7 linked regions of the Homo sapiens genome follow. The protein of the gene in region 5 purifies or fractionates together with the protein of the main gene of each other region. This does not show direct contact. Each region holds a gene or a part of one and is shown on either strand. Other genes may lie near its edges.

Evidence for each region.
Region 1: the proteins of PPA2 (region 5) and H1-3 purify together in Homo sapiens (affinity purification with mass spectrometry; 3 studies listed by BioGRID and IntAct, with this or other methods). This does not show direct contact.
Region 2: the proteins of PPA2 (region 5) and NIPSNAP3A purify together in Homo sapiens (affinity purification with mass spectrometry; 2 studies listed by BioGRID and IntAct, with this or other methods). This does not show direct contact.
Region 3: the proteins of PPA2 (region 5) and MECR purify together in Homo sapiens (affinity purification with mass spectrometry; 2 studies listed by BioGRID and IntAct, with this or other methods). This does not show direct contact.
Region 4: the proteins of PPA2 (region 5) and ARPIN purify together in Homo sapiens (affinity purification with mass spectrometry; 3 studies listed by BioGRID and IntAct, with this or other methods). This does not show direct contact.
Region 6: the proteins of PPA2 (region 5) and PDPR purify together in Homo sapiens (affinity purification with mass spectrometry, with the first as the bait; one large-scale study listed by BioGRID). This does not show direct contact.
Region 7: the proteins of PPA2 (region 5) and C1orf198 fractionate together in Homo sapiens (co-fractionation; one large-scale study listed by BioGRID). This does not show direct contact.

Annotation. Positions count from the first base shown.
Region 1 is NC_000006.12:26,233,560-26,236,687, forward strand, and holds H1-3 (histone H1.3), read right to left. Parts: upstream 1,429-3,128; 5' UTR 1,375-1,428; coding exon 709-1,374; 3' UTR 653-708; downstream 1-652. UniProt on the Homo sapiens protein: Histone H1 protein binds to linker DNA between nucleosomes forming the macromolecular structure known as the chromatin fiber. Histones H1 are necessary for the condensation of nucleosome chains into higher-order structured fibers.
Region 2 is NC_000009.12:104,745,834-104,750,519, reverse strand, and holds the start of NIPSNAP3A (protein NipSnap homolog 3A), read right to left. Parts: upstream 2,838-4,686; 5' UTR 2,728-2,837; coding exon 2,668-2,727; intron 1-2,667.
Region 3 is NC_000001.11:29,213,755-29,217,671, reverse strand, and holds part of MECR (enoyl-[acyl-carrier-protein] reductase, mitochondrial), read left to right. Parts: intron 1-859; exon of another isoform or gene 860-986; coding exon 987-1,084; intron 1,085-1,535; coding exon 1,536-1,667; intron 1,668-3,917. UniProt on the Homo sapiens protein: Catalyzes the NADPH-dependent reduction of trans-2-enoyl thioesters in mitochondrial fatty acid synthesis (fatty acid synthesis type II).
Region 4 is NC_000015.10:89,910,083-89,914,592, forward strand, and holds the start of ARPIN (arpin), read right to left. Parts: upstream 2,871-4,510; 5' UTR 2,754-2,870; coding exon 2,662-2,753; intron 2,606-2,661; exon of another isoform or gene 1,970-2,605; intron 738-1,969; coding exon 662-737; intron 1-661. Other genes in the region: ARPIN-AP3S2 (uncharacterized protein LOC100526783), read right to left, coding at 662-737, 2,662-2,753. UniProt on the Homo sapiens protein: Regulates actin polymerization by inhibiting the actin-nucleating activity of the Arp2/3 complex; the function is competitive with nucleation promoting factors.
Region 5 is NC_000004.12:105,463,729-105,467,645, forward strand, and holds part of PPA2 (inorganic pyrophosphatase 2, mitochondrial isoform 1 precursor), read right to left. Parts: intron 1-3,917.
Region 6 is NC_000016.10:70,120,719-70,124,635, reverse strand, and holds part of PDPR (pyruvate dehydrogenase phosphatase regulatory subunit, mitochondrial isoform 1 precursor), read right to left. Parts: coding exon 3,917-3,917; intron 1-3,916. UniProt on the Homo sapiens protein: Decreases the sensitivity of PDP1 to magnesium ions, and this inhibition is reversed by the polyamine spermine.
Region 7 is NC_000001.11:230,854,960-230,858,876, forward strand, and holds part of C1orf198 (uncharacterized protein C1orf198), read right to left. Parts: intron 1,049-3,917; exon of another isoform or gene 919-1,048; intron 760-918; coding exon 709-759; intron 1-708.

The sequences.
Region 1 (3,128 bases), on a different chromosome or scaffold from region 5:
GGCTGGCCTCGAACTCCTGACCTCGTGATGCCCCCGCCTCGGCCTCCCAAAATGCTGGGATTACAGGAGAGCCACCTCGTCACGCAGTGCAGCCCCCACACTATTTACAAATACAGTACCTGAGGGCCGATATCCCAAAGCTAAGGCTTATCAAAGGCCTGCGAAAAGACAGACACCGGGCACCACCAGCAGTTGGCCATTCTCAACGACCAGCTGCACAAGATCGTGGGCCGGAAGCACCTTGGGCATGCCACGTACTGCTCACAACCAGGACGGGATGTGCTCAGGAAGTCACCTCAACGCTAAAGTAAACTAAAGCATTTACACCACATCCCTGTGTCAGAAATAAAATTTTTTCAGGGCCACTTTTAAGCGCCGCGCTTTAACAGAAATCGGCCGGCCAATCACACACCACCGCGGGAATTTGAAGAAAAAGTAGGACCTGGTGGCTCAAGTAGCCTTAGCTATCCGGTGACTGTGGCTGAGACTGAGACGGAAGGATCCTTGCGCCCAGGCTGCTGGGAGCTGTTAATAACTGACCCCCAACCAGCACGACTAGGATAGACCGTGGCCGCACAACACCGCAGCACCCGCACCCCTCTCCACCCCACTCCCCCCTCCAAAAAGCTTCAGCTCTTTTGACTGAGACCTGTGGGTGGCTCTGAAAAGAGCCGTTTAAAATTTTCAAAGGGGAACGTCCCGCCAGTTTCACTTTTTCTTCGGAGCTGCCTTCTTTGCCTTTGTAACCTTCGGCTTCCCCGACTTAGGCTTGGCCGCCTTGGGCTTAGGGGCTTTGGCCTTAGCTGGACTCTTGGCAGCTTTTTTTGGCTGAGGTGTTTTCACCTTTTTCGCACTCTTGGCCACTTTCTTGGTCCCAGCAGCGGTTGCTGGCTTCTTTACCTTCTTAGGAGTCTTTTTGATGCTTTTCTTCGGGGTAGCGGCGCCAGCCACCTTCTTGGGCTTCTTGGCTGCCCCAGCAGGCTTCCTAGGCTTGGCTGCGCCAGCCTTTTTGGCCTTGGGTTTGCCTTCCCCGGAAGCCGCTTTCTTGTTGAGTTTGAAGGAGCCAGAAGCACCGGTACCTTTGGTCTGCACCAGAGTACCTTTGCTCACCAAGCTCTTGAGGCCAAGCTTGATACGGCTGTTGTTTTTTTCTACATCGTAGCCAGCAGCCGCAAGCGCTTTCTTAAGCGCGGCCAGAGAAACGCCGCTGCGCTCCTTAGAAGCTGCCACTGCCTTGGTGATAAGCTCAGATACTGGGGGTCCGGATGCTTTGCGTTTCCCAGCAGTTGCGCCTGCCTTCTTCGCCTTTTTCTTCACAGGTGTTTTTTCTGCGGGTGCAGGAATGGTAGGAGCAAGTGGAGCAGTCTCCGACATGTTTTTGTCTTCCCAGAAAAGACAATAAGTAATCTCAAACTGTCAGAACAGCATGTCCTCTACGAGGGAGGCTGAGGGTTTATATAGAGAGACGCTGAGTGATGATTGGTTCCTTGCTCCATGCGCGGCGCTGCTGGAAAAGGACTCCTCGTATCTACCGCGCTGCTGTGTTTGTTGCCCCTTAAAAAAGAGTAAAAATATAAGAAATCTGGGCATGAAATAATTAGAGACTTGGGGGAAACTGATCCGAGAGAGTTCGGGCTTCATTCCTGCCTTTGTTTCTATGCATAGTTTTAAAACCGGCATCTTGAAACTTTTCTTATTCCCCCAACTCTCTTTCAAACTTCGGTCAAATCGAGACAACTTTCATGTTTTCCTTAAAAATACTATTTCTCCCTCTTTCATTTGCAAATCTCTCTTCCAGGGCATTGTTCTGTGAATTCTTACCGTCTCAACTTTATATAGATAAACTCATTTTTATCCAAATGTGCAGGGAAATTGGGTTTTTTCGCAGGAACAATAGCACAGGCTCTCTGGCGAGCTGTTTGCATCAACCTCTAGGAATTGGCACTGAGGTAGAAAGTTCTATGTACAAGAGGGGTGATTAGTTTAGAAAAGATAGTTTAAAAAAAAAAATAGTATTTGAGTTACCAGTGTGTAAGCTGGATTTGATCTCCATATTTCAGTGGTTTAAACATTTCCAGAAAGATAAGGGTGAGGCTACATTATTCCTCTTACAGAAAAAAAAGTCCTAAGTAGAGTTACCAACCTTCTCTTAAAAGTTAGGATCATGGATTTTTCCGATCTAGAATGGGCATTAAAGATCAACTACCACATCCCCAAAAAAGAAAACTGAACCAACAAATAATAGAATGGCAGGCCAACATCATTTTGGCAACTGTGAGCATTGAGAGCTTGTGTACATGTTTGTGTCCCATCACTTTATAAATAATTTAATGAAATACACTATTTTTTTGCTAATATTCATCATAGAATTTTGTACATTTTTTATATTTTAAAATCATATTTATAATACAAATTTCCCTTCCTCTTTCTCTGTACAACCTGTTTGAATAACTGGTAAAAGTCACTTTAAAAAAATAAAATACAAATTTTCAACATTGCAAGTGTGGGCATCAAGGGTTAGAAAGAAAAATATCTGATTTAAATCACTGTAAATTTTCATCATTCTACTTGGCTTTTTACACACAAAATATGAACTAAGCTGTCACACCCTAAATTAATTGGTTGAATATGTCCACCTAAGGAGCTGAACAAACATTTCAAAGCAAACATGAGTAACTTCAGTATTCTTTATCTGTTAGTTTGCAATACAGCTGATGGAATTAGGTTATTATTAAATAATTAAGCACAAAATTGATATTCTCCATCAAGTAATCAGATGCTGAAATGAACTCCTATGTTGAAGAAACAAGAGAAGTAGTTTGATGTTATGTTTCTTCTAACAAAAATACTCATTTCAAAAAATCAAGTTATTCTGGCCTACACTCAATAGTGATTAGAGGATTTTTTCATATAAATCCTAGATAAAATAATCAACTTTAAAGATGTCATCTCTCCTCATTCAACTAATTTCATAAAAATTACTTAGCTTGTCTTGGCCAGGCGCAGTGGCTCACGCCTGTAATCCCAGCACTTTGTGAGGCCATGCTGGGCAGACCACCTGAGTCAGGAGTTCAAGACCAGCCTGACCAACATGGTGAAACCCTGTCTATACTAAAAATACAAAAATT
Region 2 (4,686 bases), on a different chromosome or scaffold from region 5:
GAGGGTATTTCTTGTCATAGCTGAAGGGTTTGATTTAGTTCTAGGAAGTCCTTAGGTTCCCTGCCTCAAGACCCTATTCTCCTGCTTCACATATACATTTGTTTACATAGAGGTGTCAATAAAGACAACTACTCTTAAATATGCTGAGTGTGTAGTTACTGTTTCCTAGTGGGGGTTCACTGTCACCTTTAGCCACTTTTTCAGAAATTGCTCATAAGAAGGCGCTGAGATCTTAATGATACTTCTTTATCCAAGAACTACAATTAGGATTCTAACAAATTTACAAAAGTTTTCCTATTAGCCAATATTGCATCTTTAGTCAAGAGCATACGTGTTACAGTTATGCACATCAAAGAACTTTATTAACTACGCACGTAACTTTTGGCAGGCATAATGAAAAAAATGTTTACTAGAAGAAAACTCTTTTAGGTTCTTGAAAAAAATGGAAATTACAGTTCAGGTCAAAGTATTTCCTAATTCAATGAAGTAAACCACTGACCAAAATTAGGACTGGAATGTAACTAATGCAATAAAAAGCTCTGACCTATCCAATTGCATTGTAATATAATGGTAGAACATGAATGCTGAGAAAAGAAAATTCAGAGTCAAAATTTTCTTATTAGTTTCTAATTACAGATGCAATGTGAACAACATTTAATGAATCCACTTATACCACATTGATGAAAATATCACTTAAGAACCATTAATTCCTTTTGTAATAGTCATACACGCACTGTAAATTTCTAATTTGTGTTCTGGTTGAACTTTCTGTAAGAAATACCTCGCCTAAGATTATCCTCTATGTAGGTATCTATGTGTATATATGTATACACATACACACACACATACGCACACACACATATATATATGCACTCATGGTATACACACAGGCATTCGTGATATTCTTATAAATCCATCTTACTTAAGTTTGAATAGCATGTGCCATTTCCTTAAGTTGATTACACCAGAATAATCTGTGAAGACAGTTTTGATACCTACAAAGCTATGGACAAATTAGGGCTTATACTGACTAGCCAGTATGTCTGTCTGAAAGCAGTAGGCTTTTGCTCCGACATATTTTTGTTTACAAAATACAAAATTATGTAACTGTGTATGATAAGGCTTAATGATAATTATCTAGAGTTAATTCTATTCGTGTGTGACTTATATTCTTATTGCTCAAATGACTAAGCCTACCAACAAAAACAGCTGCAGCTGCCCCTGCCTTTTGTGGACACTCTTTTTGTGCTTTTAAACCAAACTCTAGTAACAATGTTGGTCAAGAAGCAAGTGCCTAGTATCCATAATTTCAAAATTATTATAATAAAATATATCAGGAGATAGGCCAATGGGGCATTTGTGACAAATGGATTTCAGGTTGATTCGAGGAATTTGTATTTGGAGGATAAAATAGTTGATCAAAGGTACACATTTTTACAATTTTGGGCAGTATTAATATACAGTAGGGAACCTACAGTGAGAGAGGGAGAGAGATGTGGACAGGTGGTGCCAGAGAAGGAAGACTGCAGGGGAGCCGGGTATGGTGGGGGAGCCGGATGGGAGTTAAGAATTTTGTTGCAGGGATGACTTTTAGCTGCTAGGGCAGAAATCATGAGTCGTCCATCCTCCCTTATCTCCAAGTTAGGGATCATTCCCACCAGCAACGACCTCCACTTCACTTAAAAGAGAACAACTGATGGACATTTCTAAAAACTTAAAGTTTGGAATCATGCCATAAGGACGTCATTCCTGGCCCTGCCCCACTGGAGAATCATTAGGGTAAAAACTGCATTGTTAACCCGGGGTGAATGGACATGAGCTGCTCTTCTTTAGTGCTCCTCAGTCTGTCTCTAGGACAGGTTAATCCCCTTCCCATCCTGCCCCTTCAGAAAGGAGTAAAGTCCTAAACATCAAAAGGAAAAGAAATTTCTAGGTTGAAGCCACAGAATAGGCCACTCCCGAAAGTTAGGGCAGAATCACAAGCTCCATTTTGTCCATTTCTCATCTAAGGTTAAAAGAGTCTGTCTGTCATCGTCCGGTTTGATAGGAGGCTCCGGTCCCGCCTGGTTGGGGGAGCGACCACACGAAGCGCGGGTGGCGGGCAGGGTCCAGCCCCACCGGGACCCTGGGCCTCCTCTTCAAGGGTCTCCGCGAAATGCTCGGAAGTTGTGTGCTTCATTTAAAAGGGGGAGGCCGGTTCCGTGGCAAGCGGCTGGTTGACAATTCCCTCCTTCAACCTGATGTCTAGAGAGGGCGGTGGCTTGGAAAGCTACGACTCCACCCGCGGCTCCACAGCGCCAGGTGACAACATGGGAGCGCTCGCTGGGCCGCAGCCGCGACATAGCTGGGCAGCAAAAACGAAACAGCCGGCGCCATGGGAGTGTCCCGGTGGGTGTGGCATCCAGGCTAGAAAAGCCTTCTGACCACCACTGCCCGCGAGACGACCCCGGCTGGGGGTATTCCCCTAGCAGCGGCCTCCTCCTCACGCGCGTTCCGGGTACCCCTGTCTTGGGGTTCCGGGGCTCACGCTAGAACCTCACCGGGGCCCCAGGTCTGGGCGCGCGTGGCGGAGAGCGCATGCGCATTGCTCGCACGTACCCGGAACACTCCCCGCCCCGCCCCTCCCCTCCCGTCGGGTGAAGGCTTGGGTACCCCCGTGGCCGGTACCTGAGGCGCCAGCGTCCGTGAGGCCAGCGCCCGAGTCAGGGCGCTTCTGAGGACGAGCATGGCGCGGCTTCGGCGCTGAGAAAAGCAGCCAGCCGTGTCCTTTCTGAGACTCCTCTGAAGGTTTCCCGAGTGGAAAGGAGCGGCTCCTGGATCATTGGCAGACGCAGGCTGGGGCGGGGCTCGGCGGGGTCAGCTCCACCCCGGCGCGGGAGGCGCGGCGGGTCCCGTAGCTTGGTGTCTTTCTCTGCTGTGCTGAGCGTTGGTTCCCCCTTGGTTTCCTGAAACGTTCTTACCCCAAACGTTAGAGGTGACGTTAGGATTAACTGAAGGCTCGGATCGTTCCTGCTTCAACTTTCTGGGCCCTCACTCACCTCATTCGCTCCAGTGCTCAGTTGTGTAGATTGGTAAATGTGCAGGGGTTGTGGGTGTGTTGACCATGGGGAAAGAAGGAGAGGTGTTGAGTGCGTGCATGTGCAGTGCTTTGTATTTAAAATCGTGGAGGTTTTTTCCGAGTTAAGTTTTAGATGTTGTGATAGACGTGTATTTGAGCCTGACCTCTCTGCAATGAATGTGTTCTCCATCTTAGAAGGCTCCTAATTAAGATTTAGATTAAATTTTCCACGAGCTCAGAGAAATGGCAGCATCGAGCCTGAAATGAAAAAGTCAAAGTTAAACATACCCTGGTCTAGTCCTCCCAGTCCGGGAGTGTTGGTTCCCAGAGTAACCACCTTCAACATTTCAAGCTGTTTCATTTAATGCTTGTTTCTGTATTTTTAAGTAAGTAGTGTTTTCTGCTGTTTATTGCATTTTCAGTTATGGATAGTATGTGTTGACTTCCTTCTGTGGCAGATGAGGATTTATGTCTCATAGATGCCACTGCCCCCAAATTCACTTGTCTTCCTGCATCTAATAATGCTTATGTTAATTTACAGTAATTAATTACACTATTAATTTACAGTAATCTATATTAATGTTTACATTATTCTTGCTAATAATTACATTATTGTAAACATTAATGTAATATTGCTTACATCATGAGGACTAGGGAGGGATTGCAGGGCCATGACCTGGGTTGTATTGGTTGTGCCTTGTGGAAGAGCTTTGGAATTGTCTGTTCAAAGGAAGGGAGACTTTTTAAAATTAGTTATTTCGGAAGGGTTGCCTCAGTTTTTCTAGAAGAGAGACATCTATTTGTAACCATGCAAGACTAAAAAAATCATTTGTATCAGGACTGGATCTATATGAGTAAATTATTTTCTTAGACCTTTTTTTTTAAACCCTGTAATTGCCAATCCATTTACTTATTCAACAGATATTTACTAAATTCCTTCCATGTTCCAGGCACTTTTCCAGAAACTGGGGTACAGAATTGAGCAAAATTCAAAGTCCCGTCCTCTTGGAACATCCAGGATGGAGGAAACAGATAAAAAAAGGAAGAGTAAATATATCAGGGATTGTCAAATAATATAAAGAAAAATAAAGTAAGATACGAATAAAGGTGCTAGTGGAATTCTAAAAGTGGTCAGGATTCTAGCTATTGACTTGGATATTTAGGATTTAGGTTTCTTCATACCACTCCCTCAAAATACACTTTCCTTCCTGCGTTTATTGATGTTTACATTAAAAATATATTTTGGAGTGAGAAAAACATGTTAAAAGCACTGTAAGCACAGGTGAATCTCTTCAAATAGTGGGCTTCACTGTGAGGTGATCTGACCTGGGTATTTCACTGAAGGCTGTATCCCCTCCCCCCAAACTGTTATCTGCAAGTTATTTATCTGTGTAGTCAGTGTTAGGGAAGGGAAACTTCCAGTATCTTATCTGTGTGAGAAAAGCCTTGCTGCCAGTTTCCTGAGGCTGAGGAGGGAAGAAGGCCAGAACACTCAGCATTTGGTAGTATCTTTCAATAATATATTAATTAGGGTAGATTAAATAGCTCTTGTAAATCAACACTCAAAAAAGTGTATTATTACTCAAACACTATAGGAGTTTATTTTTTATAAGAATACAAAGTGGGTT
Region 3 (3,917 bases), on a different chromosome or scaffold from region 5:
ATCTGGAGATTCTGGCTTAGTAGATCAGAGGTGGGCCTGATAATTTATATCCATGAGCATACCAGGTAATTCTTATAACTAAGCGAGTTTTGGAAAACACAGGGCTCATCTAGGCCAGCAGAGGTTTCCTGTCCCAGAGTGGGCAGTGGGGTTGAAAGACCGGGCACAGTGGCTCACACCTGTAATCCCAGCACTTTAGGAGGCCGAGGCAGGCAGATCACGAGGTCAGGAGTTCAAGACCAGCCTGGCCAACATAGTGAAACCCCATCTCTACTAAAAAAATAAATAAATAAAATTAGCCGGGCGTGGTGGCAGGCACCTCTAGTCCCAGCTACTTGGGAGGCTGAGGCAGGAGAATCGCTTGAACCTGGGAGGCGGAGCTTTTAGTGAGCCGAGATTGTGTCACTGCACTCCAGCCTGGGTGACACAGTGAGACTCTGTCTAAAAAAAAAAAAAAAAACACTGTGGGTTTTCCACTTGCAGTTAATGAGAGTCAACCTCTATCCTATGTTGATTTCTTTTTTTTTTTTTTTTTTTTTTTTTTGAGACAAAGTCTTGCTTTGTCACCCAGGCTGGATGGCACAATCTCAGCTCACTACAACCTCTGCCTCCCACGTTGAAGCAATTCTTCTGCCTCAGCCACCCGAGTAGCTGGGATTACAGGCGCCGACCACCACGCCCAGCTAATTTTTGTATTTTAGTAGAGACAGGTTTTCACCATGTTGGCCAGGCTGGTCTTGAACTCCTGACCTCAGGTTATCCGCCTGTCTCGGCCTTCCAAAGTGCTGGGATTACAGGCGTGAGCCACCACGCCCAGCCTCCTGTGTTGATTTCTTATGGTACCTCTCTTTTATAACAGAACCGTAATTCCTGGGCACACATGGCAGCTCAGAAATGTTGCCTGACCTACTTTGAGGAGATGATTTGAGCGAAACACCCATTCTAGCCTGGATGACATGAACATCTCCGTTTGGCTTTGTGCTTAGACTCAAGAACCTGGAGCTAGCTGCTGTGAGAGGATCAGATGTCCGTGTGAAGATGCTGGCGGCCCCTATCAATCCATCTGACATAAATATGATCCAAGGTAACCTTGGTTTCTGTGGCTTATGTTAATTGGCTTTTTTGTTCAGCTGCCACCTCATTTTCATTCCTCCTCAGGTGTGGGTGTGAAATGCCTGTGATTAGCAGCAGCTGTTCTCCAGATGAGCCGTCTGCAGGCTGTGTCAGCCCTGTCTGGCCTCCCTTTTCTGGAATGTGTGGCTTTTTGAGAAGATTGCAGTGGGGAGTAAACTAAGCATTGTGAAGTGCCTGCGACATGCTGGTTTCATTTCATATGTTACCTGATTTTCATGATAACCATGAACACTAAAGAATATTGTCCCCCTATACAGACAAGCAAGCTAAGGCTCAGAGGTTGGTTAGGCAGACAGTCCAAAGCAGAGCCCAGATCAGGCCTAGGATGGCGTGGACTCAAGTCCATGCTCTTTCACTGCCCAAACATCACTGGTTGACCCTTTAATGCTCTTCTCCCTCAGGAAACTACGGATTCCTTCCTGAACTGCCTGCTGTTGGAGGGAACGAAGGTGTTGCACAGGTGGTAGCGGTGGGCAGCAATGTGACCGGGCTGAAGCCAGGAGACTGGGTGATTCCAGCAAATGCTGGTTTAGGTGAGTTTCTCCAGGTGTCAGCTGCCTATTCGTTCTTCCAGATCCTATTTCACCCACTCTGTCGGCATCCACTGATTGGCCGAGTGTACCTGGGTAATGCAGGGTTTATTTTTTTTATTTATTTATTTATTTTGAGACGGAGTTTTGCTCTTATTGCCCAGGCTGGAGTGCAATGGCGCGATCTCAGCTCACCAAAACCTCCGCCTCCCCAGTTCAAGTGATTCTCCTGCCTCAGCCTCCCAAGTAGCTGGGATTACAGGCGCCTACCACCACGCCCGGCTAATTTTTGTATTGTTAGTAGAGATGGGGTTTCACCATGTTGGCCAGGCTGGGTCTCAAACTCCTGACCTCAGGGATCCGCCTGCCTCGGCCTCCCAAAATGCTGGGACTGCAGGCCTGAGCCACCACGCTTGGCCTTGTTTTGTTTTTTTTTGAGACAGGGTCTCACTTTGTCACCTGTGCTGGAGTGCAGTGACGCGATCTCGGCTTACTGCAGCCTCCCAGGTTCAAGCGATTCTCCTGCCTCAGCCTCCCGAGTAGCTGGGATTACAGGTGTACACCATCACGCCCGACAAATTTTTGTATTTTTAGTAAAGAGGGGGTTTTATCATGTTGACCAGGCTGGTCTCAAACTCCTAACCTCAGGTGACCCACCACTCAGCCTCCCAAAGTGCTGGGATTACAGGCATGAGCCACTGTGCCGAGTCTGAATTTTGTTTATACATGGAGATGAGCCAAAATTCACTTCATGTGGAGGATGTAAAATGAGGAAAGACACAAAGGTGAGATTGGGAAATGGTGGAAAATCCATTGTAGCCTCAGCAGAGGGTTTGCATATGGGAGAGGATTGCACGAGTGAGAAAGAAGGCCAGAAAGGCAGGTTCAATCACGTGAGCCCAGGAGTTCTAGGCTACAGTGAGCTATGATCGCACCATTGCACTCCAGCCTGGGCAACAGAGTGAGACCCTGTCTATTTTTTTTTAAAAAGGTAGCTTGTGTCCACATGGGGTAAGGCCCTGCCCAAGCCAAGCTAATGAGTAGGATTTTGTTTGATATATTATAAGGAGTCATAGGTGAGTTTTGTTTTTAGCACTTAACAGTTTTCAAGGCACGTCTGTTATTGATCCTCACAGCAGCTACAAGAGGGAAGCAGGGCAGGTATTATCCATCCATTGGACATAAATTGAAGCTTGAGAAGTAAAGCCCTGGCCCAAAGTCAAACAGCAAAATGAGAGTGCCCACTGGATTCTTTCTCCTGGGTTCCCATTACACACCAGTGTTATGATCTTCTGGGTTGTAACTTACAGCGACCCAGCTCAAACTTGCTTTAAAAAAAGAAGTTGGGGCCAGGCGTGGTGGCTCACGCCTGTAATCCCAGCACTTTGGGAGGCCGAGGTGGTGGATCACCTGAGATCAGGAGTTCAAGACTAGCCTGGCCAACATGGTGAAACCCTGTCTCTAATAAAAATAAAAAAATTAGCCGGGTGTGGTGGCATGCGTCTGTAGTCACAGCTACCCGGGAGACTAAGGCAGGAGAATCTCTTGAACTCAGTAGGTGGAGGCTACAGTGAGCCGAGATCATGCCACTGCACTCCAGCCTGGGCAACAGAGTGAGACTCCATCTCCAAAAAAAAAAAAAAATAAGGCCAGGCGCAGTGGCTCATGCCTGTAATCCCAGAACTTCGGGAGGCCATGGCAGGCAGATCACCTGAGGTCAGGAGTTTGAGACCAGCCTGGCCAACATGGTAAAACCCCGTCTCTTCTAAAAATAAAAAATTAGCCAGGCATGGTGGCGTGCACCTGTAGTCCCAGCTACTCGGGAAGTTGAGGCAGGAGAATCACTTGATCCCAGGAGGCGGAGGTTACAGTGAGCCGAGATTGTGCCACTGCACTCCAACCTGGGCGACAGAGTAAGACTCCATCTCAAAAAAAAAAAAAAAAAAGAAAGTTGATTTGTGGAACTGGGAAGTGTAACAGAGTGAAAGCTTCGGGTTCAGCTAGATCCAGGAACCCCAGTACTATCAGAGTTGTGTCTCTCACTTGTTCTTAGATGAGATCTCCCCACATATTGATATAATCAAACCAACAAATATTTATTGGCCACTCTCTTTGTGCCAGGCACTGCTCTAAGCACTTCATGTATATTAACTCAATTGTTCCCACAACATGAGATGGATACCTCATCATTCCCACTTTGCAGGTGATATAACAGTAAATGCAGCAGAAAACTGTAAACTGTTAAGCAGTTTG
Region 4 (4,510 bases), on a different chromosome or scaffold from region 5:
TACCGCCTGACATGAAAATAGTGCTGAGCTGTTCTCATGGGGTACAGGAGGGACATGCAGGCTCCATGTAGCACCAGGCCTCTGGCCCTACTGGAGGGGGCATTTTTAGAGACCAAGCTCAGTTATAGAGATCAAGGAGATAAGGTGGTCAGCACATCTAGGTGGGGCTATTTGAAGGGGGAGTGGAAAGTCGGAACTAGCGCTCCGAAAAAAGACACAGGCTAGTACTGGATGGTAAATGCCAGGTGTACCCACAGACACCTGAGATGGGGTGGTGATACAGGACATGACCCCAGGAGGCTGAGAGGGCAAAGGCAGCCAGGACATCAACATGGGAACTGAAGCCCCAGACACTGTCAGAGTTTACATTCAGGCAAGACTGGGGTTTAGGGCCTGGTCTGCCTTCTCAGCCATGACCCAGGCTCTTCTGGCAAGAACACAGGCCCTCCCACCTGTCTGCTGCTCAACACAGCCTTAAACTATTCTTCCAGCTGGTGGTCCCATTTGGCTATAAATCTCCTGACCTACTTCCCACTTGCTTTCTAAGCCCATCAAGAATCCCAACTCATGGCACTGGAAGGACCCAGCACAAGGAGATGCCACAGTGGATGATGACCGTGAAGTCAGTGCCCTCTAGCTAGCACCGAGGAAGCATCCTCACCTTCCTGCCATGAGTGTCCAAGATGCTGTGCCGAGATACATCGATCAGTTCTCCCTCCAGCAGGACACCATTTCCCCTGGGGATGAAAGGGAAAGAAAGGATAGCCAGTTTTGTCAGTCCTCAGCAAATCTCACCCGTGTCTCCTATTTACCCAGCCCTGAGAAGGCTGGGTACTGAGCAGCTCCTTTCCCCGTGCTTCCGACATAGGGATCTCCAAAGGGTCCCAAAGGCTGGGGCATTGCCCAGATGCCAGGAGGAACCTTGTCAGGCTGCCCTAAGATCAAGCTATGGCCCCCTCCTACAAGGCCACTGGGAGTTACTGGAACCAGAGCCTCAGTCTTATCTACAAAATGGGGAGGAAAACAGCTGCCTCACTCTGCTCCTCTGATGTTGACACAAGATCATGTGTGTGAAGGTGTTTTGTAAGCTATTAAGTGATTACTAAATACAAAAGATTTTACTTTTTTATTGGTCCAAATGTGAGGGTAGGTATCTAAGCTGCAATAAACTATTTTCCCTTTCCACCTGTTTTTAAACACTCTCATATTCCTTTTCTCATTCATATCCAGGTGGTCATTAACCCGAGGAAATGGTTATTACTGAGAGGTGAAGAAACCAAAACTCAGAAGTCTGAGACTAGTCCAAGATCACACGGTCCTTCACTGAGGGGAAGTGGACCCCTGGCTTCTCGACTCTGGTTTTCATAAAAGCAGAACGTGGAGGCTTCCTTTTTTGCATCCACAGAAATGGAGAAGCATGGGGACAGCTGAAGATGACAGTGGAATAGGGATGGGAGTGGGAAGTGAAAACTCTACCTAGCTGGTCTCTATCCAATTCTTCCCCACCCCCCACAATTATTTTTCTAAATATTTAACTGACAAAAGACTGTATATATTCAAGGTGCACAACGTGATGATTTAAGTACACACTATGTAATGATTACCACAGATTAATGAACACACCCACCAGACCCCATGCTGTACATTAGGTCCCCAGAAATTGTTTATTCTATAACTGAAAGTTTGTACCTTTGATCATTACCCCATCCCCATCCACTATCCCCTGGCAATCACTGTTCACTGTTCTACTGTTTCTTTTCTTTTGACACAGTCTTGCTCCATCGCCCAGGATGGAGTGCAGTGGCACAATCTCGGCTCACTGCAACCTCCACCTCCCAGGTTCAAGCGATTCTCATGCCTCAGCCTCCCAAATAGCTGGGATTACAGGTATCTGCCACCACGCCCGACTAATTTTTGTATTTTTAGTACAGACAGGGTTTCACCATTAGGCTGGTCTCAAACTCCTAACCTCAAGTGATCCACCCGCCTCGGCCTCCCAAAGTGCTGGGATTACAGGCGTGAACCACAGCGCCTGGTCTGTTCTGCCGTTTCTATGGTTCAACGCTTTTATAGGTTCCATATACGAGATCACACAGTATTTGTCTTTCTGTATCTGGCTTATTTCACTTAGCACAATTCTTCAGCGCAGTTGTAAATGGAATGGTCCCTTCGGCCTCATAACCCTGTGACGACAGGGCCTGGCCCTCCAAATCCTCCTCACCCAGGCAGGCCCTGCTCTGGACCAGCCCGCCCGCTGTTCCCGCCACAGCACGGCCACTGTCCCTTCTGGGGCAGGGCATGAGTCTGTGCAAAAGCAGCGCGGCAAGTAGCTGGAGTTTATAGTTACGCGGGTGGGGTGGGGCCGGAGGTCGGCGTGAGGCGAAGCCCAGCCTTCGGAGACCTGTCTGGGGGTCGGGACCCTCTCTCGAGGGCAGGCGGACAGGCGGGGAGCTTTAAGCCGATCTGTGTCATGGGGTCGCTGGGCGGGCGCGGCGGCAGGGGCGCCGGGAGCGGCGGACTGGAGGGGCGGACTGAAGGCGGAGAGGCGGCTTTGGCAACCCCAGTTTTCCCCCACCCGCATCCCACCCCCCCACCCGATCCTGTTGCGGGGTTCGAGCCGGGGCAGGGGAGGCCGACCCGAGGCCGTGAGCCCAGGCCTACCCCTGGTGGGCGGCGGGGTCCCAGGCCCCTGGCAGCCGGACGCTCTGCACCGCCTTGTTCCGGAGCGCGCCGTCGTGGTAGATGCGGCTCATTCTCCCGACCGCCCGGGCACCCCGGCACAGAGCCGGCGCACTGGGCTGGGGGCGCGGCGCGGGAAGTGCTGCAGGACGCGCGGGGACCCGCGATTCCCAGCCGGCGGATCCGGGAATGGCGCGGCCCGGCCCTCAGGCGTTCCTCGGCGGGATTTAAAGGGACCGAGCTCCATTCCTGCACGCCAGGCCGCGCGCGGCAGGAGTTGGGCTTCCGGGAGGACCCTGGCTGGGGGCTTAGCACAGTGGGGCAGAAAGGCCATGCTTTTCTCTTGTCTCTCTCTCTTCCTCATTCCTAGAGGAAGATCCCTGCCCCAGCACACGCACAAAAGGGAAATTGAGGCCCCAAGATCCTATTATAGAAGATCCTTTGTAGGATCAGCCCGGGAAGGATGGGTTTCTGGGAAGCAGGAATGGAGAACAGCCACTGGGGAGGATTGGGTGGTCAGCTTAGAAGCTGTCCATTATGCCCCGCCCGCGGCCCTACAATGGCTGAGTCAGGTATCCCAGGGATCTGTGACGAGGGAGCTGGGGCATGGGTGTCGGACCAAAGACGCCTAAGTTTGAATCCCAGCTGTGAGCTTGGGCAAGCTCCTCAACCTCTCTGAGCCCATGCTTCTTCGTCTGTAAAATGGGGTCAGTATCAGGGGGATTGTAAAGTTTAATGAGCTCACCCTTTCTACAACATAGCATTGCCCTCCCTCCTTCTTCCTGCACAGCTCCTGAACTCCTCCCTGGCCCCACAATGCCCTTTGCCCAAGTATGTCATAGTCCGCAGGTGCATTTTCCAAGCCTGGTACAGAAGATTCTTCTGACCCTGGGATTGTTGAGGAATCTTTGTTCTTTTGTTTGGCTTCTTCGTGCCAGGCCTCGGGGCAGGTGGGCCCATTCAGGGAGGCCAGGTGTACCCCGGGAGAGGGGGCGGCATTTAAAGGGGGTGGTGGCCAGGCAGGTGCCTAGGAGTCTAGCATGAGCTGTCAATGTTGGAAGAAGAAAGCACCCTCTCCCTTCCCTGCTACACACACACACACACACACACACACACACACACACACACAGACAATGACTTTCTTGGGTCCTAGGCACTTTTGTTTTCAAAGGACCCTTTCTCCATTAAAAATTTTTTAAAAAATTATTATCTTACCACTGGGTTGGCATAAAGATGAATATATGAATTATATATATATATATATATTTTTTTTTTTTTTTTTTTGAGACAGTCTTCCTATGTTGCCCAGGCTGGAGTGCAGTGGTGAATCTTGGCTCACTGTAACCTCTGCCTCCCAGGTTCTAGTGATTCTCCTGCCTCAGCCTCCTGAGTAGCTGGGATTACAGGCACTCACCACCACACCCGACTAATTTTTGTATTTTTAGTAGAGATGGGGTTTCACCATGTTGGCCAGGCTGGTCTCAAGCTCCTGACTTCATGTCACCACCTGCCTCTGCCTCCCAAAGTGCTAGGATTACAGGCCTGAGCCACTGCTCCCAGTCTAAAGTGTTTTCTTCAACCTAAACATATATTTTTTTTTCTGCATCCAATCATCCATTACTAAACATATTTTTAGGAAGAAAGAGCACCTGTAGTCCCAGCTACTCAGGAGGCTGAAGTGGGAGGATCACTTGAGCCCAGGAGTTTGAGTCCAGCCTAGGCAACATAGCGAAACCCTGTCTATTAAAAAAAATTAATGAAATTAAATTTAAATTTTAAAAGAATAAAAACATTTTGTGGACCGCTAAAAGTATGATGGGCCTAATGGATG
Region 5 (3,917 bases):
GGCCAAGGTACAGCTTGGGTTTTTGCTTCAGCGGGTGGAAGCCCCAAGACTTGGCAGCTTCCAAGTGGTGTTGAGCCTGCGGGTGCACAGAAGTCAAGAATTGAGGTTTGGGACCTCTGCCTAGATTTCAGGTGTATGAAAACACCTGGATGCCCAGGCAAAAGTTTGCTGCAGTGGCAGGGCCCTCATGGAGAACCTCTGCTAGAGCACTGTGGAAGGGAAATATGAGGTCGGGGCCCCCATACAGAGTCCCTATTGGGGCACTGCCTAGTGGAGCTGTGAGAAGAGGGCCACTGTCCTCCAGACCCCAAAATGGTAGATCCACCAATAGCTTCCACCATGCACCCAGAAAAGCCACAGACATTCAATCCAGCCCATGAAAGCAGCAAGGAGGGGGACTATACCCTGCAAAGCCACAGGGGCAGAGCTGCCCAAGACCACAGGAACCCACCTCTTGCATCGGCGTGACCTGGGTGTGAGACACATGGAATCAAAGGAGATCATTTGGAGCTTTAATATTTGACTGCTCTGCTGGATTCTGGACTTGTATGGGGCCTGTAGCCCCTTTGTTTTGGCCAATTTCTCCCATTTGGAATGTTTTATTTACCCAATACCTGTGCCCCCATTGTATCTAAGAAGTAACTAACTTGCTTTTGATTTTACAGGCTCATAGGTAGAAGGGACTTGCCTTGTCTCAGATGAGACTGTGGACTGCGGACTTCTGAGTTAATGTTGAAATGAGTTAAGACTTTGGGGGACTGTTGGGAAGGCATGTTGGTTTTGAAATGTGAGGACATGAGATTTGAGAGGGGCCAGGGGCAGAATGATATGGTTTGGCTGTGTCCCCACCCAAATCTCATCTTGAATTCCCACATGTTGTGGGAGGAATCCTGGTGGGAGATAATTGAATCATGGGGGCAAGTCTTGTTCTTGTGACAGTGAGTAAATCTCATGAGATCTGATGATTATATACGGGGGAGTTTCCCTGCACTAGCTCTCTTGTCTGCCACCATATGATACATGCCCTTCACCTTCGGCCATGATTGTGAGGCCTCCCCAGCCATGTGGAACTGTAAGTCCAATAAACCTCTTTCTTTTGTAAATCACCCAGTCTCAGGTATGTCTTTATCAGCTGCATGAAAACAAACTAATACAAATATACAGTATTTCTTAACATCAATAACCTGACTTTTACCTCCCTTTCCTCATTCTTCTAATTTTTGTCTTCTGCATATTTATTTTTTCATATCAAGGCTGATAGAATGTTCTGTAATCATACTGAATTTTCTATGCATTTCCTATTATATATATCAAAAATTTCTCTTAGATAAGAAAAACCTGGAATGCTCATTAAAATGCAGATCCCTGAACCACCATCCCACATCTAGTGAATCAAAATCTCAAGGAGGGAGAAATGAATATCTGTATTTTTAGCAAACATCCCAAATAATTCTTACACTCAGGTGTGTGAGAAGCGTTGTCTATGTGTTTATTTTTGGTGAGGATGCTGCTATAATTAAATTTCCTTTTTTGGTTCAGCTTCTATTTTTCTTCGTGTTTCTAATTATCTTTCTTACATTGTCATAATCACGTCTATAAGTTATTCCAATGCCTCACGGATATCATCAAAATTATGGAATCCTCTCTTTACCCAAACAGCTCCTTCAGGAACCCTCTATCCTCAGGCTGCAATATGAACTGGATGCTTTCCGGGCATCCTAAGACTGCTTCTTTGCTCTCCAGTGTAGATCTATCATTTTCTGGATCCCATGCATTCACGTTTTTTTGGTTTACTTGTCTTGCAGAAGCATATCCCTAATAAGTGTTCTGTAAGAAGGATTGCATGTGAGGCCAATTTCTCAAGTTGTTAAATGTCTAAAATGTCTTTACTCTGTTCTCACTCCAGATTGACAGCTGGCTGGGTAGAAAATTCTAGGAGGAAAACTCTTTTCTCTCAGAATTTCAAAGGCATTACTCCAGTCTTCGAGCATTCAGTGTTGCAGGCCTGTTAGCTGACCACCCCCCAGCAAGACATGTGGGATCCTCTCAATAGCTGTATAATAATGTGACTGGGGGGGTCAGAAAACTTGGGTCCTTCAATTCTTAGATTTTTTTCTATTATCCCTTTTACAATTTCTTCTCCATTTTGTCTGTTCTTTCCTTCTGAAACCCATATGAGTCAAATGTTGGACTTTCTGGATTCAATCTCTACGTCACTTCTTCTTGCCTCCTTTTTCTATCTCTGACATTTTGTTCTACTTTCTGATAGATTTACCTTATCTTCTAATTCATCTATATTCTTTTTCTTAGGACTGCTGCAAGAAACTACCACAAACTTCGTGTCTCAGAACACCATTCAACCCACTACACCTTCTACTGACTTACTTGTTTTAACAAGTTATTTGCTAAAGAGGTCTTGGTCTTGATTGCCATTTCTTCACAGCCAACTCTTCCTTTTTTTTATAGCAGATGTAATAGAGAACACCCACTTGACCTTCTAAAATTCAAGTTTCTTGTTTTTCCCATTTAATTTTTAAGTTTTCCTTAAATTCATTCAGTAAATATTTCTTGAATATATGCACTGTACTAAGCATGGTTCTAGATACTAGATACAAATTCCAATTCCCTGTTCCTATGGAAATCACATTCTAGTTGGGGTGCAGAAGCAATGATTATGTGTTTATTCTATCACATATCATAAGCACTATAAAGATAAAGGAAAACAAATTAGGGAAAGTGAAGAATGAATAATGGAAGCGTTACCAATGGCAAATCCCTATGGCTCTGCAACAATCTCAATTCTTGCCTCCTCAGAAGAAAGAATTCAACTGAGGGGCAGAAGGCAGAAGGAGAGGCTGAGGCAATTTTACAGATGGAATCAGTTTATTATAATAAAAGGCTTTAGAGCAGGAACAAAGGGAAGGAAGGTACACTTGGAAGAGGGCAAAGTGGGCAACTTGAAAAGACAAATGCACGGTTTGACCTTTCAACTTGGGGTTTTATATGTTAGCATACTTCCAGGATCTTGTGTCCCATCTCCCCTGATTCTTCCCTTGGGGCAGGCTGTCTGCACACACAGTAGCCTCCCAGCACTTGGGAAAGGGACCATGTGCAACGTGTTTACTGGAGTTGTACGCGTGTTCACTTGAGGTGTTCTTCCCTTACCAGTCGAATGTCCCTAGGAGGTCACATACCAAACTCTGCCATTTTGCCTCTTAGTGCAAACGCTTGAGCCCACTCACCCAGTTCCTGAGATCTCATGGGAAGCTGCTGATCACCAGCTTCAGGTGCTTCTGTTTATTTGGAGACTGCCTTTCCCTGGTGCAGGCTGCAACCAATTAATATTTTAGAGAAACAGTTAACAACTGCCTGACCATCACCTGATGTTTGCCTGTCATTCCTGGTGTGTGTTGAGGGAGGGGAGCCCTCTTCTGCCCTGCTCATGCCTGACTAGCTACCTACTGTAACAGAAGGAGTAATATTTGATATTGAATGGTCAGGGAAGATCTCTCTGGTGGGTAACAGTTCAGCACAGATCTGAATGAAGTGAGGGAAGAGATCAAGTAGACCTCTAGGGAGGAGCACTGAAGGCATAAAAAGCACAGGTGTGCAGAGGAAAGAACATACATGGCATGTCTGAGAAACAGCAAGGAGGCCAGGATGGCAGGAGGACACTGATCAAAAGGAAAAGTGGCAAGCAATGAATTCAGAGAGGAGCCCAGTATTAGATCCAGTAGGACCTTACATGCTATGGTACATATTTCAAAAAATTTTTTGAGTGAAATGGAAAGCCACTGGCATTTTCAGCAGAGCTTGTACATTATCTGACTTACATTTTAAAAGGATGAAGGTGATTGCTGTATGGAAAGTAGACTATACAGGGCTAAGGGTGGAAGCAGGGTGAAGAATCAGGAGGT
Region 6 (3,917 bases), on a different chromosome or scaffold from region 5:
TCGCCCTTGGAGGTACATTAGAGTCCCCGGGGAAGCTTTTAAAAATATTGATGCCTGGCCTCACCCCTAGAGATTCTGGTTTGTTCTGGGGAGAGGTCTGGGCACTGGTAATTGTTAAAAGCTCCCCAGCTGATTCTAATGTGCAGACAGATTTAAGACCCATTGATCTATGAGAACAATAGTGAAGATGGACAAGAGGAATAATTATACATAAAGGGCAGTATAAAACCATTTCACAAGCCACGGATAAGGCATAATAATAACTATTATTTTTTGAGACAGTCTCACTCTGTTGCCCAGGCTGGAGGGCAGTGGCACAAACTTGGCTCACTGCAATCTCTGCCTCCCAGGTTCAAGCAATTCTCCTGCCTCAGCCTCCTGAGTAGCTACAATTACAGGCTTATGCCACCACGCCCAGCTAATTTTTGCATTTTTAGTAGAGACGGGGTTTCCCCATGTTGGGCAGGCTGGTCTTGAACTCCCGACCTCAGGTGATCCACCCACCTTGGCCTCCCAAAGTCGTGGGATAACAGGCATGAGCCACTGCACTTGGCCGAGGCATAATTTTTTTTTTTTTTTTTGAGACTGAGTCTTGCTCTGTCGCCCAGGCTGGGGTGCAATGGTGCGATCTTGGCTCACTGCATCCTCCGCCTCCTGGATTCAAGTGATTTTCCTACCTCAGCCTCCCGAGTAGCTGAGATTAACAGACGCGAATAACCACTCCCAGTTAATTTCTGTATTTTTTAGTAGAGACGGCGTTTCACCATGTTGGCCAAGCTGGTCTCGAACTCCTGATCTCCGGTGATCCACTCACCTTGGCCTCCCAAAGTCCTGGGATTACAGGTGTGAGCGATCGTGCCTGGCTGGCGTAATTATTTTTAAGTGTGAGGTTTAAATAGTCTGCCTTATATCAATTCTAAGGTATTATATAATCTTGAAGCAACAAATTAAACCAAAAATGAACCTCCCTAGGGTCTCCCACTTAGAAACATTTACACTGCGATTAGTTTATCACTTTTTGTGGAAATACCTGATAATTAAATTTAAAAGGATTTCAAAAAATAGGAGAAAGACTTTGACATCAAGGAAGCATTATGAGGCCAAGTGTGGCGGCCCACACCTGTAACCCCAGTACTTTGGGAGGTTGAGGTGGGCGGATCACTTGAGCCCAGGAGTTTGAGGCCAGCCTGGACAACAAGGTGAAATCACGTCTCTACCAAAAAAACAAAAAATTAGCCAGGCATGGTAGTGCATGCCTGTAGTCCCAGCTACTCAGGAGGCTGTGGTGGGAGGATCACTTGAGCCCAGGAGGCAGAGGTTGTAGTGAGCTGAGATTGAACCACTGCACTCCAGCCTGAGTGACAGCGTGAGACTCTGTCTCAAAAACATTAACAAAAACAAAACCCACTTTTGCTCTTAAAAGTATCCACTGCGGGCCGGGCACGGTGGCTCATGCCTGTAATCCCAGCACTTTGGGAGGCTGAGGCGGGTGGATCAGCTGAGGTCAGGAGTTCAAGACCTGCCTGGCCAACATGGTGAAACCCCATCTATACTAAAAATACAAGAATTAGCCAGGTGTGGTGGCATGCAACTATTAATCCCAGCTACTTGGGAGCCTGGGGCAGGAGAATCACTGGAATCCGGGAGGCACAGGTTGCAGTGAGCCGAGATCACGTCACTGCACTCCAGCCTGGGTGACAAAGCAAGACTCTGTCTCAAAAAAAAAACTATCCACTGCATAAAATAGAAATCCATGAGTCTAAACTGGTGTGTGTGTGTGTATGTGTGTATACAGATATATAACTGAGTAAATAAATGGGGGAGAAGGAAATCTCTTCCTGACAGTAATATGCCAACTATAATAAATGTAGAAGTATGATCAAAAAATCACCATTTGTCAACCATCACGGTGGTGGCTGACTCAGGCAACAGTTGTCAATGGATGCTAAGCCCGGTAGGTGGAGGTCTCATATGAACAGGATATTGGCATAATCTCAGAATCCATCTCTCCTCAAAGGGCACTGGCCCATTACAAGGGGAGAAAACAGGGTCTCTGTGCTAGAGATGCTTGGAGGACACCAATGTAACTGAGTGACCAGGTTTATCACCACCAGAAGTGAGACAGGACAGCCATACACCTCCTGATGTGGTGCACTGCTGAGAGTCCAGCCTAATTTCTGTGGTCTTACTGCCAAAAATGTATGACCTGGTTATGATGATGGATGCACAACTCTGTAAACAGATTTCAGCACTTAACAAGGATGAGTGGCATGGTATGCAAATTGTATCTCAATACAGTGATGGTTATAAAAGTCTCTAACCCAAGTCTGATCACAAGACAACAGCCTAGGCCAGGTGTGGTGGCTCGCGCCTGTAATCCCAGTACTTTGGGAGGCCAAGGTGGGTAGATCACTGGAGGTCAGGAGTCCAAGACCAGCCTGGCTAACACGGTGAAATCCTGTCTCTACTAAAAAAACAGAAATTAGCCGGGCATGGTGGTGGGTGCCTGTAATCCCAGCAACTCGGGAGGCTGAGGCAGGAGAATTGCTTGAACCCAGGAGGCGGAGGTTGCAGTGAGCAGAAATTGCACCACTGCACTCCAGCCTGGGTGACAGAGCCAGACTCCATTTCAAAAAAAAAAGAAAGAAAAGAAAACAGCCTAGGCAACACAGGGAGATCCCATCTCTACAGAAAAATACAACAACCAGCCAGATGTGGTGGTGCATGTCAGTAGTCCCAGCTACTTGGAAGGCTATGGCAGAAGGACTGCTTGAATCCACGAGGTCAAGGCTACAGTCAGCTGTGATAGTGTGACTGCACTCCAGCTTGGGTGACACAGCAAGACCCCATCTTAAAAAAAAAAAAAAAAGGGAATAAGAAAACATTAGCTAAACACAGGTTGAGAATTATCAGAGTCAAAGGCCTGTATTCTTTTTTTTTTTTTTTGAGACAGTCTCGCTCTGTCACCCAGGCTAGCGTGCAGTGGCATGATCTCTGCTCACTGCCACCTCCGCCTCACGGATTCAAGCGATTCTCCTGCCTCAGCCTGCTGAGTAGCTGGGATTACAGGTGCACACCACCACGCCCAGCTAATTTTTGTATGTTTAGCAGAGACAGGTTTTCACCATGTTGGCCAGGCTGGTCTAGAACTCCTGACCTGAGGTGATCTGCCCACCTCAGCCTCCCAGAGTGCTGGGATTACAAGTGTGAGCCACCATGCCCGGCCAATATTGTTGTATGAATCTAACATTACTTGTATAGTGGTATAATATTAATTAATGATGGATTATAAGAATCCATTCTGTAATCTCTGTAACTATTACAAATTAATATAAAGGGACTTAGCTTACAAGCCAATAAAGCAGAAAATACTTGACCTAAAAGAAGGCGAGCACAGAGAAACTAAGCCTATAGAGCATATTTCTCTTGGGGAATGAGAACAATATTAAGAACCTAGCAATTAAGCAAACACAAGCAGTTGTCTACTTTGCTTAAATGCAATCCACATTATTTACAAACGCAAATTTTTGTCAAAGTCTAAAATGTTGCTGGGTACAGTGGGTCATGCCTGTAGTCCCAGCACTTTGGGAGGCCAAGGTGGGAGGACTGCTTGAGGCCAGGAATTCAAGCTCAGCCTGGGTAAGAAAGCGAGATCCTGTCTACCAAAACACCACCACCAAAAAAAAAAAAAAAAAAAAAAAAAAGGAAAACGAAATTTGCCAACTCTCTAAAAACCAGAGAACATGAGCATTATTAGTCATCCTTAAACAAAATTCAGGAGATTCCACCTTGCTTCTTCTCATGCTACTTAGCAACATTTAGATTAGCTACTGGTGGGGCAGTATCTCTGAAAGGAGAGGGAATCTTATACGATTAGTGCAGCACAGCCATGAGCCAAATGCAGTCTGATCCTTACC
Region 7 (3,917 bases), on a different chromosome or scaffold from region 5:
TCATGACGTAAAGAACCCTCCAACACACATCACCAAATGTTCCAGAATTCAGAAAATCTTGGTCTTTTATTTCTGTCCCTTGGGTTAAAGACACCTGTCTTTTAGTCATTTTGCTTATGAATGTACTTCTACTGGGGCAACTTAGGAGATGGGGAAAATGAATTAAAATCAGTGAAGCTTGATGCTCTTAAGCAACTCTGGTGATGATGATGATAATGATGAGAAGAAGAATGACTGGGAGACAGAATTAGTGATCCACGTTGGGATGAATTAGCTAAATGGATGTCTATGTCTATCAATCAGCTCGTCACCTCCCATTTGCTCAAAGCTTTGTCTTATGGGGCATCTCCCATCAAGGTGCTAAGTGCTGGGAACCAGAGGTATGAGCAGAGACAGGGCCCCCAAGAGGGCTGGCCCCCTTAACCAAGCTGGCCGGGAGTCCTAGACAATGGGCATCATGGGGCGTCATTGGACCCTGGCAGAAAGCACTACTACTTTGAACTCACTATCACCAAACCACACACAATAGTTTCCTAATTCCTCACCATGCTCCTCCCATCCCCTCCTTTTCTACCAACAATGGACACATCCCCTGCAGCCTGGCAGTCAGGGGGCTGTCTTCTGAGTCCATCAAATGCTGAAAGAAAAATATACAACTACTCAGTTCTTTTTAAAAGAACAAATAGATCTAAATTTAATCCAACTTACCTTTGTTTCCCAGGAGAAAGGGGCAGAGTGCTCATCTTGCCAAGTTAGATCCTGAAATAAAAAATCGAGAATAAGTCTGAAATTCAAACCCAGACATACCCCATGCAAATATCCACCCAGGACCGTGGGGGAACCAAAACTTAGGAATAATCCCAACTCCTGGCTCTAAACAAGCCTGATGCTTTGACACTCTCAATATAATGCGCTGACCGTCTTGATCAGATTGCTCCCTCATCTTTCCCGCTGAGGCTGCCAGACACTCCCCTCCCCAGCCAAACAGACAACAGGGAATGCCGGTGAGGCCCCCCAATGGACTCAGACAGATGAGATGAGTAGGAGTGGATGAGGGCTTGATGGTCTCAGCAGAATCAGGCACAGACTCAGCCCTGAACAATGATTAGCTGTGTGGCCATGGGAAGATGACTCAGCCTTTTTGAGCCTCAGTTTTCTCATTTGTAAAAGCAAAATGATACTTCCCTTGCAGGGCTGTTGTAAGGATTAAATGAGGTAATCTGGGAAAAGAACGCCAAGCCATAATCTGCCAGTCAATGCCAATACAGGAGCTCCCCTCCTCCCCAACAGGCCTACCAGAGAGCTCGAGGGCATGGATCAGCAGAATCAATGAAGAAAAACGCCAATGTAATCCATGTGACTAATTATAACAAGAACTCTGAAATCACTCCCCACCCCCACCAAACAGAACAGGACAGAAAGAGCCCTATAGAACAATCACTACGAATTTGACCTTGGATCCAGTATGTTTTGTTCACTGGCCTGCACAAATGACTTGGGGAAGCCACCTTTCCTTATATCCCACCCTCTACCCGCAGTTATTCCTGTGCTAGCAAATGTCTCATCTGTGTCCAGCTTCGATTGGGTAACTTTTGTTTGTTTGTTGGTTTGTTTTAAGAGATGGGGTCCCAGTATGTTGGCCAGGCTGGACGCAAACTCCTGGGCTCAAGGGATGCTCCTGCCTTGGGTGTCCAGAGCAGCTGGGACTACAGGTGTGCACCATGTCTGACTGCTTCTACTGGGAGCATATTTTCAGAACAAAAAATCAGGACACATTGGGTGATACAGGCTAAAATGGGATAAAATATTTTAAACGGAGATCATATCCATATCTCCCCAAAACTCCAGGTGATTTATGTCCTTCCGTAAGTATCCCTGGATAACTGTCTTCTTCCCACCCATAGGTACACCGACTCTGCGCCCCTAAGTCAAGGGTCTGGCTTCCCTCTCCTCTACAGGGCAAACCAGTTCTGCCCACAGACCCTCTTCTTTCAGCTTTTGACAGAGCCTCCGCCACCCTAGCTTAGCCTCAGACACTGGGGGCAAATGCCAGGGCCCACGCAGGGGGAGTGCCTCACCAACACATAAGTGTACACATTCAGCCTTCCAGACCCCGAGTGTGCGTTCTCTGTGCAGACGCCTCCTAACATGAACAGCCAGTGGGAGGTCAGTCTTTGAACTCAAATAACGAAGGCATGCCAGGGTCTGGGCAGCTGAAGGCCTATTCCCAAGAAGCGGGGACAGGGAAGGAAGTGTGTGATGACTCCCCAGCACAGCCCAAGCACGGCCAACCCTAGATGACAGGGGCAACACAGCAGGGCCTTTGTCCGCTTCTCTATCCCAAGTGCCCGGAAGACTCAGCGACTGCCCGTAGCGGACGCTTACTCACTCTTTGAGAATATGTGAATAAACAAACTCTGCACAAGCCCGGATCCTTTCACAGGTTGATTTTCCCCCACAATCACCCGCTCCCAACACTCACACTCCCCCAAGACTTCCCAATGTGGGGGCACAGGCTCTTCACAGCTCTTGGCCCCAGGAGGAAGAGCCAGCCATCAACAGGGTAGAGATCTGGTTCTGTGTCCTGATGGCTGTGCTGTGTGCCTTGGCTCTGTGCAGTAGAGGCTGGTACATTTGTGGCACAAATACTTCACATATGCTGGGGATAAAGAGCAAGGAAAACCCAGAGAGGAGACTGTCAAAAGGCCAGAATCCAGGTCTTTATTTTCCCAGGACAGCATATAAAAGGACTAAATATATTTATATCAGGAAAAAAAACACCACTAACAAAGATACTAGGTATAAATATTAAGAATTACAAAAGTGAGGGAAAAGCCCTACAAACTGGGTTAAGCTGCATTAAAGTGTATCAAACAGTCAGTTCTGAGAACCACATAGTGTGTGCAACTAATGACCATGTGCACAGTAAGATGACCCCCATCCTCAGAGTGTTACAGTCACTGTCCTGTAATGGTATTTGCTTATGATCCTGACTTCTGAACTGATTGGTATGCAGTGCCTCATGGCTGTCAAGCAAAACCTTTAAAAATGAGAGGAACCACTGCCTTTTTGTTTGGAATTTCAGTTAAACTCAAGTCACTTCCCAATGCACAAACTTCATTCCTCCAAAAATGGAAATGGATGCCTGGAGGAATGTGAGTTACCAAGGCTTTGTGATTAGATGTCTCCTAGCAGAGGCAGAGGGCCAGCCTTCAGCTCTAGGGGGCTCCTTGTCCACGTCTCTGTGTGCATGCTAGGGGTACAGTTGAGCTAAATAACCAAAGTCCCTAAAATCCTCAGAACCCTCTGAGTTCCGTTTAGAAGCAATCAAACCAAGAAGGGCTTTGTTTTCACATGGGAAAAATAAAAGAGGCTGATGGAATGTAAGTATCATTTATTCTAGTTAATCATTCATTAACTCTTCGTGAATAAATGATCTCTGCACAAGCCTGGATATTTTCACAGGTTGATTTTCCTCCCCAGCCTCCACACCCCACACTCACACACCCCCTAAGACTTCACCGGCTCTTCACAGCTCTTAGTTCCAGGAGGAAGAACCGGCCATCCACAGGGTAGAGTAGAGATCCAGCTTTGGATCTTTCGAAAAAGGTAAATGGAAATCAACTGGCAAAGGTGCTCCTTCCATCCAGAATCAGACAGGCCACTGGCCACCCAAATGGAAAGAGGAAGTGCATGAACACCTGCGGGGCAGGCAGAGGGCAGGACCACTGACTGGCCAGGGTGGGGCATGATGGAGCTGGACTCCCCTGTTACTCGATATGATTCTAAATATTAATTATATACCTTAAGTCCCTTTGAAATCTGCAAAGATTAAAATAATAAGGCTTTTGGCTTTGGAAGGTGGCTCAATACAACACTCTGAGGAACGAAGACTTAGCCCAGAGCTTGGGGACAGT